2 linked regions of the Homo sapiens genome follow. The protein of the gene in region 2 interacts with the protein of the main gene of each other region in a biochemical or structural test. Each region holds a gene or a part of one and is shown on either strand. Other genes may lie near its edges.

What was found. The genes of interacting proteins can lie anywhere in the genome.
Region 1: the proteins of YBX1 (region 2) and IRF1 form a complex in vitro, tested with the Homo sapiens proteins (one study listed by BioGRID).

The regions. Positions count from the first base shown.
Region 1 is NC_000005.10:132,484,170-132,487,773, forward strand, and holds part of IRF1 (interferon regulatory factor 1), read right to left. Parts: intron 2,962-3,604; coding exon 2,785-2,961; intron 2,676-2,784; coding exon 2,626-2,675; intron 2,518-2,625; coding exon 2,388-2,517; intron 2,205-2,387; coding exon 2,082-2,204; intron 1,548-2,081; coding exon 1,498-1,547; intron 329-1,497; coding exon 193-328; intron 1-192. UniProt on the Homo sapiens protein: Transcriptional regulator which displays a remarkable functional diversity in the regulation of cellular responses.
Region 2 is NC_000001.11:42,695,680-42,699,723, forward strand, and holds part of YBX1 (Y-box-binding protein 1), read left to right. Parts: intron 1-519; coding exon 520-609; intron 610-962; coding exon 963-1,265; intron 1,266-1,500; coding exon 1,501-1,583; intron 1,584-4,044. UniProt on the Homo sapiens protein: DNA- and RNA-binding protein involved in various processes, such as translational repression, RNA stabilization, mRNA splicing, DNA repair and transcription regulation.

The DNA.
Region 1 (3,604 bases), on a different chromosome or scaffold from region 2:
CTTCCCAGCACAGCAGTAAACATCCACTCAGCTTCAGGCAAACCTTAAGGCATGGCAGCCGTAGCTAATTCACAATGTGTCAGTACCCCAGATGCTTTACCGCCCTGCTCCCTGGCCCTGCCCCCAAGCTTTCTCCATCCCTACGTGGTTCTCCCTCATCTAAGAAGCCATAAGGATCCAGGGCCTTCTTACCCCCTGGGCTGTCAATTTCTGGCTCCTCCTTACAGCTAAAGTCTCCATAGACAGAGGTGGGCTGGACTCCAGGTTCATTGAGTAGGTACCCCTTCCCATCCACGTTTGTTGGCTGCCACTCCGACTGCTCCAAGAGCTGGGGACAGAAGAGCAAGAGGCTATCAACTCCCTTCCAGTGCAGACTCACCCTGTGGCCCTGCCCTCAATGAGCCAGCTCCTCTCAGCCAGTATCACACCCTTGGCCATTTTCACAATCTCAGATAGGATGCAGAAGTGCACTGCAGTCAGGACAAGGGCCCGGGAGGGAGGAGGCAGAAATGCATGTTGGCACTGGTCCTCAATTCATTTTCCCACCCCTCTCACACCCACTCTCTGGTATAGCATCTCCACGACTTCCCTCTCAACTGTGTAAGGACATAGTAAGAGGGAATGTGGCTTAAAACAAAGGTTAGCATAATAAATCAAGAAAAGATGACTAGAAAAGCTAGAGATAAGGAACGACATCCATGTCTCAATTTTTTGGGCTAATGGAACAGCTGGCGTACAACTACTGCAAAAACTTTTTTTTGAAATGGAGTTTTGCTCTTGTTGCCCAGGCTGGAGTGCAATGACACAATCTCAGCTCACTGCAACCTCCGCCTCTCAGGTTCAAGCGATTCTCCTGCCTCAGCCTTCAGAGTAGCTGGGATTACAGGCATGCGCCACCAGGCCCAGCTAATTTTTATATTTTTGGTAGAGATGGGTTTCACCATGTTAGTCAGGCTGGTCTCAAACTCCTGACCTCAGGTGATCCACCCACCTTCGCCTTCCAAAGTGCTGGGATTACAGGCATGAGCCACTGCCCCCGGCTGCAAAAACTATATTCACTTTCAAAACTGAAGCAGAAAAAAAAACCTGGAGGATAATTTGCTAACTTTTTCTATAAAGCCATCATCATATTAACGGATCCTAAAGGCTGATTATTGAAGCCTGATGTGCATTTCCCGAACTAGCAGGGCTGGGGCATGTTGGGGCAGAGGATGCAGGCCAGGGACCCATCGCTGATAGTGCCTGACTCACAGAGCTGTCTGATGCCCCAAGGCTTGCTTCAGGACGGCCTGTCAGAGGCCAGGCCTCCCACCTGCCTTCCCTTCCCATGGTGGCTTTCCCACCAGTCAAGCCACGTGAATGTGGCACTTGTGGGACAATGCAAGCAGCCAGGTGACAACAGCAGCTACCCATCCTCTGATTTGGAAGCTTCACTGGTTCTCTCTCCTCACTGAGAAACGGTCACTTCAAGAGTGCCCAGGTAGGAAGGGGCTTTACCTTCATGATGTCCTCAGGTAATTTCCCTTCCTCATCCTCATCTGTTGTAGCTGTGGATGGGGAAAGCAGAGAGGTTGGCTGGCAGTCAGCCACACTCACCCTGCAGTTCCAGTTCCAGCCCACCAGATCCCCCTGCCCTTTCTCTGTCTCTCTGTCTCTCTGACACACACACACACACACACACCCTCCCGGTGGACCTATCTGCCATAGAGATTCCAGAACAGGACCCTGGCCTGGTGACTCAGCCTCTCAAACCCTGAAGCCACGCCGCTTCCCACCCCTACCCTACTTCCTTCCTCACCCTCAGATGCTGGGCTACAGAGGAGGAAGGAGAACCAGCACCCCAAAATGCAGCCCCTGGCCCCCTTCCCTCCTCTCACCAGCCCCCACTGTACTGCAGCCCACTCTGAACTGCCTTCCTAGTGTCCCCGTCGCTTGCCTCCCCCTATGGTGGCTAAGACTGGGCAATGCCCAACTCAATCAATTCAGTGCCAGGTGGAGTTCTGATCATCTTTTCTCTCTCAGGAAGCCCTTCACAGGACCCAGACAGTCAAGCAGGCAGGCCAGGCCCCAGGAGCACCAACCTTCAGAGGTGGAGGGCATGGGTGACACCTGGAAGTTGTACAGATCACTGGTGCTGTCCGGCACAACTTCCACTGGGATGTGCCAGTCGGGGAGAGTGCTGCTGACAGCACATGGCGACAGTGCTGGGGAACAGCAGAAGCCACAGGTCAAGGTTGTGTGCTTTCTTAGTTTGCAAGACATCGAGCGCCCTCCGACCAACCCTGCAGCCTGCACTAATGGGCCACCATGTGCCAGCACCATGCCTCCAAGAGAAAGAGTCATCCCACTGACCTGTGGGGTCTCCTGCCAGACCTGGACCAGCTCACCTGGAGTCAGGGCCTGCTCCACCTCCAAGTCCTGCATGTAGCCTGGAACTGTGTAGCTGCTGTGGTCATCAGGCAGAGTGGAGCTGCTGAGTCCATCAGAGAAGGTATCAGGGCTGGAATCCCCACATGACTGTCGAGGGAGAAAGCAGCTTAGGCCCAGGCCCACCTTAGCATTTCTTCCACTGCTCACCCTGGCCCACAGGTGACCAAAGGCCTGGCTGCTTAGGACCACACTCACCTTCCTCTTGGCCTTGCTCTTAGCATCTCGGCTGGACTTCGACTTTCTTTCTGTGGGGCAGACGGGCTGTCAGCCTTGGTGCAGGCTCTCCAGCCCCAGCTGACCTCCTTCTACCCTCCCTCCCTGAGGGCTTCCCAAGGACCCAGAGTCCTTGGATACCTTTTCTCTGGTTCTTGGTGAGAGGTGGAAGCATCCGGTACACTCGCACAGCTGAGCTGCCCTTGTTCCTGCTCTGGTCTTTCACCTCCTCGATATCTGGCAGGGAGTTCATGGCACAGCGAAAGTTGGCCTTCCACGTCTTGGGATCTGGCTCCTTTTCCCCTGCTTTGTATCGGCCTAGAGGGCAGGAGAAAAAAGAGGATCGTCAGGGCCATGGGTAGGGATCCTCAGCTGCCCCTGGCCTGAAGGAGGAAGGCAAGGTACCCCTGACCTCTTATGCTACCAGAGAGCCACAGTGGTCAAACCAGCAGGTACTCCCGGTGACACTCTGCAGGTCCTAGGCCCTGGGCCTTCTCAAATGCCCAGGCTTGGCTTAAACACATCTAGCGGGCCTCAGTGAAGGGCCCAGCCAGAAGCACTAGAGTCCCCATATCCCCAAAGTGTACTATCTGTGTCTCAGACTATGCCCAGTCTTCCTCCTTGGGCTATCAGCAGCCAGAGGGTAGAGTGGGCACAGACTGGGCAGCAGAGAACAGTTACTAAATGGGTGGGCTGACTGTTCTGAGATGGGCCTAGAGCTCCATCTCTCAAGGATAAAGGAGGCCACCAACCACATGAGGCTTGGACCAAGGGCCTTGGTCAACACGAAGAAAAAGGCAGACCTGGGTCTCTTTCAGTGCCCTGGCTTACAGCTGCTTTTCACAGATGCTTTTGCCAGGGAGAACTTTCATCTAGCCACAAACCCCCTGAAGCCACACACTTTCTAAGATCTTGGCTTTTCCCTTTGAGAATTTGCTGAGATGATCGACTCTCTTCTCCA
Region 2 (4,044 bases):
TTGCATTTCCACTGATGTATTATCAGATTGGAAGGGATTTTGGTTGACATTTGTAATTGAGTTTGATACGGTAACACAGGGGCAAAGTTGGTTTGGTCAGCTTTGAAGCATGCAAAACCAAACTCGCCTGTCATCTAAACTGACGCAGTGTGGGGCCACCTTCTCCTATTAAGTGCAGTCCTCAGGGGATAGATGGATATCCTCATTTGTTAAAAGTTATATATAATGCTTTTGCAAAAAGCAGTTTTTAAAATGATGTGTCTGTCTTGAGTGTTAAATTACTTGTTTTAGTTTTGTAAATAGTGGTACAATGCTGGGGCCTTGTATGATTGGAGTGTTTTTGTTGAAGTTGGGGATAGTGTGGTCCCCGCTTTCCTAAATTTATTGATGGTTTGGTCTTATTTAAAGCAAATCTTAAGTGTATATCCAAGCTAAAATAATATTGACTCTGGTACATTTTAAATGAAAAAGCACATTATTCTCCCCTGTTAATCTATTTTTGGAATGTGATATTACTAGACTGCCATAAAGAAGAATAACCCCAGGAAGTACCTTCGCAGTGTAGGAGATGGAGAGACTGTGGAGTTTGATGTTGTTGAAGGAGAAAAGGTGAGGATGCTTTTTGTGTAAAGGTTTGACTTCAGTATGGAAATATTTTGGAGGTCTCATCCATTAGGATGGTGGCTCTAATGTGGATGGATGTGTTCAGGTGACCTCATGAACACAGGTGCATCAAGCCTAATGTTCTGGCTGCAGTTAGAGGGCAATCTCTTCAGAACAGTGAGGAACTGATATTTAGTCATTTCTGTGCACCCCTGGTCACGCAGTTGCGCCCCCCCCCCCTTTTTTTTCCTTAACTTTGTTGTTTTTTGCTTTGTTTGAAAATGTTCTGATTTCCTTTTGAAAGTGTTGAAAGTGTTCTGATTTCCTTTGTCACTATCAATATGTAATGGCTTTTGTAGGGTGCGGAGGCAGCAAATGTTACAGGTCCTGGTGGTGTTCCAGTTCAAGGCAGTAAATATGCAGCAGACCGTAACCATTATAGACGCTATCCACGTCGTAGGGGTCCTCCACGCAATTACCAGCAAAATTACCAGAATAGTGAGAGTGGGGAAAAGAACGAGGGATCGGAGAGTGCTCCCGAAGGCCAGGCCCAACAACGCCGGCCCTACCGCAGGCGAAGGTTCCCACCTTACTACATGCGGAGACCCTATGGGCGTCGACCACAGTATTCCAACCCTCCTGTGCAGGGAGAAGTGATGGAGGTAAGTTTCACCATCAACAACAGCAATGTGATAAGTTCTGGTAGGACTGTTTAGAGCTGTTAATTATATGGAAAGCAACTTGGATTCCTAGTAAGAACCAAAAGGATTAATTTATAATGTAGTCACAATTACTAGATGGTCTGTTTTGTTTGTTTTTTAACTCTTGGATTTATCTGGTTGGGTTTTTTTATTATATTACTGACCCAGTAGGCTTAATTTCCATTGTCTTTTTCAGGGTGCTGACAACCAGGGTGCAGGAGAACAAGGTAGACCAGTGAGGCAGAATATGTATCGGGGATATAGACCACGATTCCGCAGGTATGGTCCACGTAAACATGTTTCTATTAAAATTTCCTCAAACCCGTGTTAGGACTCAGCAATATCATGCCTCTCCTGCAGACTCATTTTTCTGTTAACACTTCACGTTTTCTTTCATCAGATGCCTAAGAGGTGAACCTATTAAAAACAGCTTGTATAGATGAGGTCTGCTTTATACATAAATTTTTTTAGAAAATGATGAGGGTTTGGAATTTCAAATTTTCTGTCCTTGAACAGGTAAGATAATATTTTAAACCACACCTTTTAAACCTGCCTCCTTGGTAGGGAGAAAGGAAAGCATTAGGAGTATCTGAATTGTACCATGGCATTAGTGAAGAATCAACAGTGTTATCACTTGAAATGGCATACATTATCTTCCACTAAACACTTCTCAGTTTAGATATGTACCCCCTTTTTTTTGGAGTTGGGAGTTGTCAGCTCAAAGTTGCAAAATGAAATTGCTCCACCAAGAATTTACATTCTGCGGGGGGAAATCCAGTCTGTCGTTAGACAACTATCTACTTGAGTGGGTATTAGAAATCTTATTAATAGATGTCATTATTAGAGTAATCGAGGAAAAATTCCATGAACCAAGCATATTTTAGTCCATGCCGTAGTATACTTTGAGGCAGTGTTCCCAGTCCCACGGTGGTAGGATAGGATGGTGTAATAGTTGTTTCTCTAAGGGTTTGATATCAAAGCATTGAGTTTTCATAGGTGATCCCCAAAAGCTGACAGGTACCTCTGAAGAATCAAACCAATACAGTAATAACGCATCTTAACTGATCACTTAAATCGCAACTTTTAAATCCCCAAATTTTTAAGTGTCAAGTTTATTATTCTAGAAGTATCCAACATATCCAAAATATACTGTGAGTCTATAAGAGGGGGTTTCTGTATATAGGTTTTTAAATTTTACCAAAGTTGGAGCACTTAGTGAAGTTTTAGGAACTAGGGAATCTAGTCGAGGTTGTATTACATGTATTTATCAGCACATGTACATTGAGAGTTTTGCAAGAGCAGCTGATGTCATCATATTTTTTGTATTAATATGTCTTGTCCTGAGTTTTCAGTTAAAAGAGCTGAGGTCCTAACTGATCACTACCACAATTGAAGATCTCTGATTCAGTTTTCTACCAGGAGATTGTGTTAGCCAGATGCTGGATGTTGAAGATAGATGGGTTTTTATTTTTCAGAGTAGGTCTAAAATAGCCTCTCATGGCAGTCCATCTGTTAAGTCCATGGGTTCCAGCAGCAGAATCTTTGGTTTACCTTTTGTTACACTGAAGAGCTTAAATGTTTTGCCTAGTTTCATTGATGTCCTTAAAAATAGCATAATTTTGTGTTTGTATTCAGTGCTTCAGTTCACCGTTGAGTAAATTGTTTGTCTTTATATTGACAAACAAGCTTGCGGTTGATTTGTCTCTTAGAAAGGTATCTTTGTCCATTGTTACCCCTCCAGTGCAGAGGTTTTTGCCTTTTGGTTTAAGTTAGACTTAATGTCTACGTGTTTCAATGTTTAGAATGCTCAGTCCTGCCAGATAGTTGCAGAAGTAACATAAAATTGCTTGGAAGTTATCAATGAATGCTAGACTTTCCAAACTGTGCAGGAATCTTTTGTTCAAATGAGAGTAAATGAAACATGCTGCCCCTAATGCATGGAATGGTGTGAAATTCTGACTGGTGTGGGTTCAAGAGCAAACTGAAAGGGAAATCTTAAGACAGAGTATAGTACAAGTGTTGCTGAAAATGAGACTAATAGTAGTAAGGGGAAAATGGGGGGTCAAAAAGGGAGGTTTTTTGTTGAGAAATAACATTTATAGGCTGAAATGCAATCCAGGATAACAGTTGATGGCAGGAAAGTGACTGCTGGAACTGTTTTCTTTCTCAGAGAGGGTAGGGTTTTGCCCACAGGTGAAAATGTTGACCTTTTGTTAGGAACCTGCCGTTTTCCTGTGTAAGAAACAAGAATACATGGGCACGCATGTGTTAATGGGAAGACATGGAAGCCTTTGGTTGCTAAATTGAGACGAAAGTAAAGAGGAAGTTTGAAAAGTTTGGGGCAAAGAACCCTCTAGAACAGAAAATAGAGATGGTAAATTTATAAGTAATAGGATAACGATCATAAATTAGAAGTGAGTTCACCCAGCTTGACTCTGTGTTTCTAGCCATTTGGGCATCAGGCTCAGGTTGGGCAGAGAGTTGGATTTATCCAGATTTGGTTTATCCAGATCTGGTTTGATTTATCCAGATCTGGTTTATCCAGATGAAGACACTGGGGTAGGGATTGGTCATATGATTAGTGGTAGACTTTATACTTGGATAAAGAGGGGAGAAAAGGGGAAAATGAGGGTTGTTTTTTTTTTTTTAAATTGTTTTGTAGAAATGGAGTTGCACTGTGTTACTCAAGCAGTCTTGAACTCCTGCCCTCAAGTGATCCTCCCCAAGTGCTAGGATTACA